Linked DNA regions of Homo sapiens: region 1 is linked to region 2. The links come from fine-mapping of genetic effects on gene expression. A gene starts in region 2. The other region holds a variant in brackets. All regions are shown on one strand. Distances are from middle to middle.

What was found. PIP is the estimated chance that this variant, and not a neighbour inherited with it, causes the effect. A credible set is the group of variants that fine-mapping cannot tell apart.
Region 1: its variant is the best candidate, but not a certain one, in a credible set for the expression of ABHD12B in sun-exposed skin (GTEx, PIP 0.85).

Annotation. Positions count from the first base shown.
Region 1 is chr14:51,022,958-51,028,338 of GRCh38, reverse strand. It overlaps TRIM9 (tripartite motif containing 9), which reads left to right. Exons shown (of 13, transcript NM_001387360.1): 2 at 2,979-3,074. Among named protein-coding and RNA genes, the nearest start is that of TRIM9, 69 kb to the left of the region's middle. The variant A/G (reference allele first, on the strand shown) is at 2,286.
Region 2 is chr14:50,869,417-50,874,797 of GRCh38, reverse strand. ABHD12B (abhydrolase domain containing 12B) reads right to left here and starts at 2,745. Exons shown (of 13, transcript NM_001206673.2): 1 at 2,520-2,745. The coding sequence starts at 2,623.

The DNA.
Region 1 (5,381 bases), 150 kb before region 2:
GATTTTTCATTGTCTCCTCAATTTCTACAAGTGGACAAAGCTTAAGAGAATGATTTCTAGATCTTTATCTTATAATGCAATTTTTTATCAAATACCAGAACAATCATCAGCCAGGTAGAAGGCATTCTTGGGACGGACCATAAACACAAAGAGGAAATTGGAAATAAATTGATTTTTGCAGTTCACTTACTGCTTTGTCATATAAAATCCTGGGACTAGATGGGGCCAAAACTCTTTGTCTACTACTAGGAATGATTGTATTTCTAAGTATACAGCAGCAACTGGTCAAAAAATCTATGGGTATCAAGTCTGTCTTATACAGACACAATTAATTGCAAGGTTGGAATACAAGACACCAGGCAGCTTCACTTCTGTGTAACCAAATCAATTTTACTTCTGTACTGAAACATCTAAGTGTGGTTACTAAACATAGGTTATAATAAAAAGAGGAAGAAAACTATGGTAGTCCAGCAAACTTTTACTCATTCAGGAAAAAAAAAAGATATGAGTTCTAAAGTAACAATGAAAAAAAATTTCTTCTTTAAAATATGCCTCTCATATTATTGCCTGCTCTTCCAAATGAGACCGTTTTTCCCTCCTTTATCCCTTGGGCTCCTGGAAATATTAATAGTTATTGAGGAGAAACTTTTACTCCAAATAATATTGTAGCTGAGACCCAATCATAAAGAATTTTGCAACTGTAGGCTCACTTTGAGCTTTATCTTACTCAGTTGTGTTGGTCTTGCCTCTTGGAGCCTAAATACATAGAGCAAAGTACAGGTGATCGAAAATGTTCTCCAACAGACCCTGTTCCAGGAATCTGTCCTGCGAATCCCTCCAGTCAGCAGGTGTTTGTGTGAGCAAGAATGAAGAAAACAAATAAGAGTTAACAGCTGGTTGGGCACGGTGGCTCACACCTGTAATCCCAGCACTTTGGGAGGTCGAGGTGGGTGGATCACCTGAGGTCAGGAGTTTGAGACCAGCCTGGCCAACATGGAGAAACCCCATCTCTACTAAAAATACAAAAGTTCACTCGGTGTGGTGGTGCACGGCTGTAATCCCAGCTATTCGGGAGGCTGAGGCAGGAGAATCGCTTGAACCTGGGAGGCAGAGATTGCAGTGAGCCAAGATCACACCATTGCACTTCAGCCTGGGTGAGAGAGTGAGACTCTGTCTCAAAAAAAAAAAAAAAAAAAAAAAAAAAAAGTTAACAGCCAGCATTTATTAAGCACGCATCATGCACTGTGCACCAGTAGGGTAATAGGGTTCTGGGCTTTAGATATAGTATCTTATGCAATGCCCACAAAACCCAAGAATAGTATTCTTCCTCTGATTTTATGGATGAGGTAAAACAATGTATAAAGGGTTGAACAGCCAGTAACTGGCAGCATTTCAGAATTCAGAATTGTTCCCTTAACTAGCAGAAGCTTTCACATTGATTAATGCATTCAACCCTCACAATAACCCAACTACAAAGTATTACTGTTCTTCCCACCTTTTCCATTGGAGTAATTCAGACAAAGGTAACTTTCTCAAGGTCACACTTATAGGGGATAGAGCGAGAATCTGCACCCTTTCAAACCTATATTCTTTCTACCATCCCACATTGCCTCAACCAAGCATTTGGTGTGCATATTTTTAGAGAGTCAGTGCCCAACTTTGTATTTAAAAGACAAATATAAGAGAAAAGCATTCACAGCACCAAGAGATATAATTTTAAGGTTCTGCCCTTTTACAGAAAGGAAAGGGTAGATGAATCATTGTGTTGGCAAGGAGAATAGGCTTTAATTTGAAAAGAAGACAGTGCAGGAAAGGGAGTCTGTCTCTGTACCTGAGGTACGGAAGGGTATACCCAGACTGCTAGGAGGGGAAGGAATTTGTATCAAGTACAGTGATACTTGATATAAATTCCTGCTAGCAATAGAAAACTCCAGAACAGTGACTTGAATAGGAGTTAATTTTTATCACATAACAAGAAAGCTAGTGGTGAAGGTTTCAGGTGTTGACTCAGCTGCTCAAAGATGCCATCAGAACCGAGCTCCTTCCCCTCCCATCCCTCCACCCATACCCTATTGGCCTTCTCCTCATGTGAGCCGGAAGACATCACATCCATCCTAAAGTCAGGAACCACAGTGGAGAGGCTGCATCAATCACAGTGGTTCCGTATCAGCAGAAAAGCAAAAGCTTTCTCAGACCCCTCCAGTCCCCAGCAGACTTCCACTTAGGTGTCGTCCGTCAGGATTGTGTACCACGGCCTCCCCAGCGGACGAGGAGGCTGGAAGAGC[A/G]AGTACCTACCTGGACACCTTGCCAACCCAGCAGAACTGCCTCCTCGTATGGATGGGGTGGTGTGGGAAGAAAGAAAGAGAGTAAGCCTTGGTGTCGGAGGCTAGTGAGGAGAGGACACAAATGTGCTAGGGCAGCAGGGCTGTACTTGGGAGAAGGAAGAGGACACGGATGAGGCAGGAGTGGAATGTCATCCTGCCCATTGAATTTGTGATTATATTTAAGTGGCCCCAGAGGATCACACCAGTACCTACCCCTTCCTTCATCCTGTTCTTTACTCTATTCTTTCTGCCCTACCCAGACCAATAGCCCTTTGTGCTAAGTAACGTTGATAAGAATTAGATCATCTGACTCACTATTTTGTTTTGCTTTTTTAGTCCTTAGCAAATATGTATTCAATAAATGATTGTTTAATTAATCAATGAAGGAGGAGATGAAGAAATTCTAGGTTGATATCAGCTGGTGAGGGCCTTTGACTGCTGTGGCCAGAAGTGTTCACTGCTTCCAAGGAGAAACTACTCAGGAGCACAGGGAGTTTCGACACCAGAATCTACCTGTACAAATGCCAGCAAAAAGGTCCAACCTCAGACAAGAGGAATCTGAGGAGGTTGATGACTCTTCAGTTTTGAGTCTCGCTGGCCTTGTTGGTGTATCCTGTGATTACAGCTCCATGGCTTCCTTCTTTGTCTTTGCAGAGCCAGCTCTCCCAGGCGCTGAACGGACTGTCAGACAGGGCCAAAGAAGCCAAGGAGTTTCTGGTACAGCTGCGCAACATGGTCCAGCAGATCCAGGTATGGGTGTTACCTGGGACGCAAGGAAACCCGCCGGTTAATACGTAACTGTGTGGCGGGAGAGTTTCCTTCTCCTCTTTTATTTTTATGTGTCGTGGGAAAATTCCTATTTTGTGGTTGTTGTTGTTCTTTACATACAAACACATAGAGATCAACTTCAAACATACCCCTTCTTGAGGTAGTTACTTTTTGCCAACAAGCCGGAAACACAGCCTGATTTTCCAACTGGTTCCTGTCTTCCACACTGAGGTCCTAATTCTCTACTACTGAATATTCAGAAAGAGGCCTATTTTTTTGTAAACTCAGGGTCCTTATTGTTGAGCTTGTAAAACCTTGTAGGTTTCCAAAACACCTTGTAATAATTGTATCATTTAATGGTAACAGGCCACAGTTTTCTCTTCTTTTCTTCCTTCATTTCCTTCCTGCCTTCCTTTTTTTCTTTTTCATTCCTCCCTTGTTCCTTCTTCCTCTTTTTTCTTCCTCCCTTTCTGCCTTTCTTTCTTCTTTTCTTCCTCCCTGACCCACAATAATGCTTCTCCTCTGCTTAGACATTTAAATATTTTTCAACCATGATCCCCTGGCAACTATAATTTCAGATTGCTTTATCTAGACACAATGACCAGCAATTCAACCAGCATTTAAGAGCTCATAAATTCTCCACTATAGCTGAAGGAGAAAAACCATAAACTGTATAAGACAGTAAAATAATGACCTTCTGTACTGTTTAGCATTCTTATGTTTTGAGGTTTGCCTCACAGAAATAACCTTAGTTCTGGCCTCCAGTAAATTGCCTAAGTTCATATTTAACCATGTCAAGGTAGAAATGGATTTTTAAATGTAAGCCACCCTTTCAAAGAATTACACACTGATTTCTTTGCCTTTTTTTTTGGCACACATGCCCATGTTAAACTTTTGATTCCCTAACAGCCTAGCAGTTTTGTATACTTCCTTCTGTTTTCCAAAGCAATGGAGTTTATCAATCAGTTCTTTCTTTACTCTGCTGGCATAAAATGTGCAGCCCCAGGCTTGCCTCTGCCCGGGCCTCTTCATCAGAGCAAAGCTTTCTTTCTGCTCTAAATCAGTGACAGAGCTTACAAGGAGAAGGTTTCCCCTCACCCCACCCTCCAATATTACCCTGCATGTGGCATAGAGAGCTCTTAAATGATGTTTTCCAAAGGCCTTCTCTGAGAGTTCAAAAGCAATTGCCGTGAAAGCCAAAATTTAGCATTGCTCAAGCAATTACTAATGCATTCCTTATACGAAGACCTTGCATTTGAAAACAATTACTAAATGCCTACCAGTTGATTATTATATAAAAAGACACAGTTCTTTATGACTTTGGTAATAAATTTAAATTTGTGCCTTAAATAAATTTAAATTGTGCCTTTCTTGCCAGCCCCAAAAGTTTACAGTTTACTCAACTGGGTGGTGTTTTTTAAGTATTACTAACGTATATGTGAGTATTTAGCTTTCGTTTACTGTAAATTACTTTTTTTCAGATTATGCATATATATGCAAAATTGCATATATTACTCATTGAAAAGCTTATCCTTAATAACTGCATATAACTCATTGAAAGAATTGCTTAAAATAAATGTCTATGGCATGTACAGATTTAAATCAAATAAAAAGGTTATATCCAGCATTTAATTTAAACATCACAGGGAAGCTATAATTCACTTAGTATGAAGTTGCCTTTCCCCTGCAAGGTGTTGGGTCATATCTGATTTTTATGGCAGGGTGATCCCTGTTACACACATTGATTGTTTTTTTCTGCCTACTATTTGCTTTCCTTAATGAAAGGGGCAAGTACTTTTACCCATTATTCTTATAAACTTCTGTTCTCATTGGATTATTGTTAATATTGAAGACCAGTGCCATCCTTTTTCTTCTTTATTCCTTTGAATTTAATGATTTCTCGTGCCTCAGCAATGCCCCACTCCCTCCTCATTGCCTTTTTGAATGCCAGCTTCCACCATACATAGCTGAACATATGTGGCCCTCAAAAACATTCATAAACAACTCTATGAACTAAAGCTTTGTTTTGCTTAATAGAATTCAAATTGTGGAGATGATTTCCTTTTGATAAATTTAAGTGATAAATATTTATCCCTTTTAATCTAAATTTAAAGCAAAACATGACCACTGTAGAATAAAGTTTATCCAGTTATTTTTTTAAAATTACCAAATGTGCATTGTGGACAGAGTTCCTTTTCATTCCCTTCAGCAGGATGGGGGAGCTCTGTTTTCTCTGGCAGCCTGAGGCACCCAGCAGCTTGCAGTTGAGAAATGTGCTCTGTTACACAG
Region 2 (5,381 bases):
AGATAATAAAGAACCAACGCTGTGGAAAGAATGAACACATTTATCAGCCTACTCCTGCACATTTTCTGAGCACTATCTAGGATTGTAATGACTTGGGGTGGAATGGGGGAAATGAGGAGGAAAATAAACCTTTGGTTTCCCCCAACTTCCTTCTGGAGCACATTTTCCATTTTTCTTTTTTTATTATTATTTTTTTTTGAGACGGAGTCTCGCTCTGTCACCCAGGCTGGAGTGCAGTGGTGCGATCTCGGCTCACTCCAACCTCCGCCTCCCAGGTTCAAGCAATTCTCCTGCCTCAGCCTCCGGAGTAGCTGGGACTACGGGCATGTGCCACCACGCCTGGCTAATTTTTTGTATTTTTAGTAGAGACAGGGTTTCACTGTGTTAGCCAGGATGGTCTCCATCTCCTGACCTCATGATCTGCCCGCCTTGGCTTCCCAAAGTGCTGGGATTACAGATGTGAGCCACAATGCCTGGCCTCATTTTTCTAATTTAAAGAAAACCAGTTGTAAAGTGGAGACTTACTCTCCTTGGCCCACCCACCTTAAGCAGCAACTGGATTTGATAAAAATTTTTGTAAAATAAATAACTAGATTCCCAAGGCATTAAAAAATAGCCACTGAAAAAATCATATGATGAAATGTTCTTGGGTCTCACAACACATCCCACTAGTTCCAGTGCCATGATCAGGGCCAGGGGCATGGCAAGCCCTCCATGAAGGTTTGCTCACCTAAGTGAACCCGGCTCCAAGAATCAAAGAGGACTTGGGATAGTGGAAATGGGTCTGGGCCTCAGCCTCAGCACATCTTATGGTAGCCAATAATCTTCTGCTCAGATGAAGACATACGCTAGTATTTTGTTCTTTCAGGAAGTGTCTCTTGAGACTTTTTTCACTAATTAGTAAGGCAAGTAATAGATGGTCCCCAACTCCCTATCTCCCACTCCATTATCAACAAAGTGGGTTATTCTCTATGAGTATGATGTGCAACTTTGATTCTCTGCCTAATAAATGCCCTTTACTGCCAAATAAATGTTAAATAATCAGCCATCAATTCCACAGAGACCATCAAAGTGAAAAACATTAGATGTCAACGTTCCCAGAATCACCACATCTGGGAGAGAAGTCCTGTTAATATGCAGTTTGACAAGTGCAATCAGGACATTCTGCCACGTGTTCAGATCCAACCCAGAGCTGGGAGGCATGGGTTCTAGGTGACTGGGCCCCTGCAGAGCTGCCAGCACTCTGCTGTCTGCAATGAGAATAAAAAGGAATAGAAGAGAAAAGAGACCAGGTGCAGTGGCTCACACCTGTAATCCCAACACTTTGGGGTGCCAAGGCAGGTGGAATCTGTGAGCTCCAGGAGTTTGAGACCAACCTGAACAATGTAGTGAAAACCCATATCTACACAAAATACAAAAATCAGCTCAGTGTGGTGGCAGGTGCCTGTAGTCCCAGCTACTGGGGAGGCTGAGACGGGAGGATCGCTGGAGCCCTGGGAATGAGCCAAGATTGTGCCACTGCACTCCAGCCTGGGCAACAGAGTGAAACCCTTGTCTCAAAAAAGAAAAAAAAAAGAGAGAGAGAGAGAGAAAAGATCCCCGTTTGTCATCATCACTCTGGGCACTCCAAAGTGAGGTCTCCTGTGTCTGGATGTAATTTTTGGATATTTTCTAATCAGCACAAATTAAACAAAAGGAATAGAAAGAGGGAAGTAAAAATGCCAATACCTTCCCACACCAACAAAACTAAATGAAATACCCACGTGTCCTGGGTCCACGATCTCCAACCAATACCTGGCTTCAGTGCAAACAAGACTGACAATATGTTGCAGGTGGATTCAGGTAATTTAAGATTACTGTTTAAACCGAGGATCCATGGGAGGAAGAAAACAGAAACAAAACCCGAAACACCCACTGATACATTTCAGACTTAAACAACATAAGAACTTGGCACAGGTAATGCCAAGTTATGGTTTCAACACACTATGTACATCTTTAGCATACTGGAGGTGTTTTCTTTAAATACATGCCAGGGAGTTCACACTCAGGGAACTAGGCACGGATTTTCTGATTCTTTTCCACCTACACAGATAGGCCCTTGACCTAAGAGGATCCCGTCCAAGATTACAACATATATTACTATTGTCACTATTACTAATGTCATTCAGATCCATCTTGTATGTTAGCAAAATGGTCAGATAATAGAGATTGGTGTAGGAATTCAACCATCTCCCTGGCATCTGTATTTCAGAAGCCCCCAAAAGTTATAACTTCCTGAAATACCAAACCTGAGAGTCTCGCTGGTCCAGGTTGGGATTGAGGCTGAGGATAGCAAGGGCAACCAAAGAGCCCTAGAGTTCTCAGGGGGCCGCCGAGGTCCCCCGGAAGCCACAATGCTGGGCCTTGGGCCCGGGCCAGCAGAGGGGATTGCGGCCTCGGCCGCGCCCTGGCCCCCTGCCCCATCCCCGCGCAGCCTGAGCCGTCGGGGCCCGGCCAGGGGTGGACCGGGCGGTACTCACCGCAGGTTGCGGTCGACCATGTCCCACCAGGCGGCCACGCAGCTACGGGCTGGGGGCCCGGGCGGCTCGGGCGATGCGGCCGCCTGGCAGTCCTGCGCGTCCATCCCGCGCCGTGTCCCGATACGCCGCCACCGCCGCGGGAGCTGCAGTCCGGAGCAGCCGCCCGCGACCTTCCCGCCCCGGCGGCACCGCGCCCGCCCTCCTCCTCCGCGCGGTCAGGCAGGCTGGTACGGCGGGGGAGACGCGGCCCGAGGGTGCGCTCCGCCCGGGTCAGGCTGTTCGCGGCCACACACACACACACAGATGTCCTAAGCTTATAGCTAGCTATGCTACATTTTATTTTAAATTGATTTCCATTATACTTCTGTGTGTGTGTGGGTGTGAGGCGCGCGCAACGCAGTAAAATATGTTTTCACCATGGTACTACTAACACAAAAGTTTGACCGCCACAGCTTTTGATTTTCATGAAGAATATAAGCTTTCCTCTACTTAAACCTCACTTTTTTCTTTTTCTCTTTTTCTGAAGCCTCCTTGTCTCCAATTCCCCATCCACCCCCAAAATCCTCACAGCCCCCCACCCTGTCACCCTTACTATAGAAAGAATTTCTTTGGCTCCCTTTGATTTACTAATGATTTGTCTGTCCACGTGGGGTTATGAACACAATTACTCCATGTAGCAAAAAATTAAGACCTTTTCGGTATTTTGTTTACGTAGCAGCATGTAGCAGAACCTCATCATTGTACCAAGGAGTTCACACCTTGAAACTTTGACCTTGGTACAGGTTTACATCTTGGTGCAGGTTTACATTGTGCAACTGTCTCCTAGGAGCAGGAACTGTCTACCAGAGCTACTCTAGGGAAGCCACGGCCTGCATGTGTGGGGACAAAGGAGGAAGAAAGGGAATTAGGTTTTATTTGGATACATTCGGATGCCAGCATCAAGGCTTCATCTTGGAGGCAAGGTGCAAATCTTAAGAGGTGAAATGGGTTTTTTGTAGTGTCTGTGTTCAGAGGGCACAGCAGGGGGCTGTCAGCACCAGAAAGTGCGTGGAAACCCATCTGCTTGAGGATAGTAAGATGGTCTGGGGGAAAATACCCACACTTTTCAAGAAAGGGAAGTTTTCTTTGAGTACTAGCTCATTTCATGGAACTGTCAGGGCAAAGGGGGATTTTGTTCACTGCCTGTTAATACTCTTATACTTGCTCTGGGAATGTTTGTTTTCTTTGTTTCTTTCTCTTTCCTTCCTTCCTTTCTTTCTTTCTTTCTTTCTTTCTTTCTTTCTTTCTTTCTTTCTCTTTCTTTCTTTCTTTCTTTCTTTCTTTCTTTCTTTCTTTCTTTCTTTCTTTCTTTCTTTCTTTCTTTCTTTCTTGTCATGGTCTTACCCTGTCACTGAGGCTGGAGTGCAGTGGTGCAATCATAGCTCACTGTACTTGAACTCACTTGAACTCCTGGACTCAAGCAATCCTTCCACTCCAGCCTCCCAAGTAGCTGGGACTACAAGCATGCACCACTATGCCTGGTGCGCGCGCGCACGCACGCTTGTGTGTATAGAGATGAGATCTCACTATGTTGCCCAGGCTGCTATCAAACTCCTGGCCTCAAGCAATTCTCCCACTTCGGCCTCCCAAAGTGCTGGGATTACAGGTCTCTGTCACCACACCTGGCTGGAATGTTCAGTTTCTGATTCACACACATCAAGATAGAAGAGGAATTAGCTCAGAAAGGACCAATGGGATCCAAGCCTGACTGATGAGCCAGCAGCAGGTGGGTTTTCACAGAGCCACAACCTGCATGATGAGAAAGCTTCAAGCAGATGTCGGCTCTACCCTTGGAGTTCTTCATAAACGTGGTCTGGAATCTCCCAGAACTTGTTCAGGGAAGCTCTGGATGGGACTCTGGGGCCATGCCAAGTGGAGATGGAGGGATCAAAGATGGGGAGGAGAGCTTGGAGGAGAGAAGAACAGCTGCATATGGTCCCAGAGTCTATTTCCATCTACTTGCTCAGGTTGAGAGAGGATATTTCCATCTACTTGCTGGATGAACAAAGTTGTAAGCCCCAAGTCTAGGGATATGTTTGAAATGCTCAGCAAAAATCTCTGAAATTGGAAATCACTATGGCCCATTTTTTGAAAGGTTGCATAAGACTCTGCAAGAAGGTCTTTCCCAGTATAAATAGCCCCTTTCAAATGGCACATCCTGGAAATCAGGGAACAAAGTCTCCCATATGATTTGATAGAACCTGAAAAACAAAATATGCATTCATTTATTCAGCACCCATTTACTGAGCACCTTTTAGGTACCAGGTACCACATTGGGCACCGTAGGGATACAAATCAGGATCCCAGCTGGTAGAGATTCATTTCAGGATGAACCATGAGAACACAGAACAGGAAATGAAAAGTGTCTTAAGGGTAGAGATTAAATCAGGGGATAGCAGGGGCTGGAGGTGGGGAGGGGAGGTTGACTACAAAGGGGTGCGAAGGGACATTTTAGAGTGATGGGAATAGTCAACATCTCAAGTGTGGTGGTGGTTACTATAAATATCCACCAATGCATATAACTCACAGGTGAATTTGACTGAATATGAATTATACCTCAACAAACCTGACTTTTGAAAAGTGACCTAAGAAATGTACAGATAAACTATATAAATGAACATGTCCTATGTCATGTTGTATAAATGTTAAGACAAAGCTGATGGTACAAATACATCAGAAACCAACAGTTGAATGTTATTTGCACTAGCAGAAAAATAAATCTTGATTGGAGACAGATTAATTTGACCACCTAAAATTATTCTGGAAAAACAGGGAATGGGGAATAAGACTGACCACCTCTCAGCTGCTGTACAGCTGTGAAGG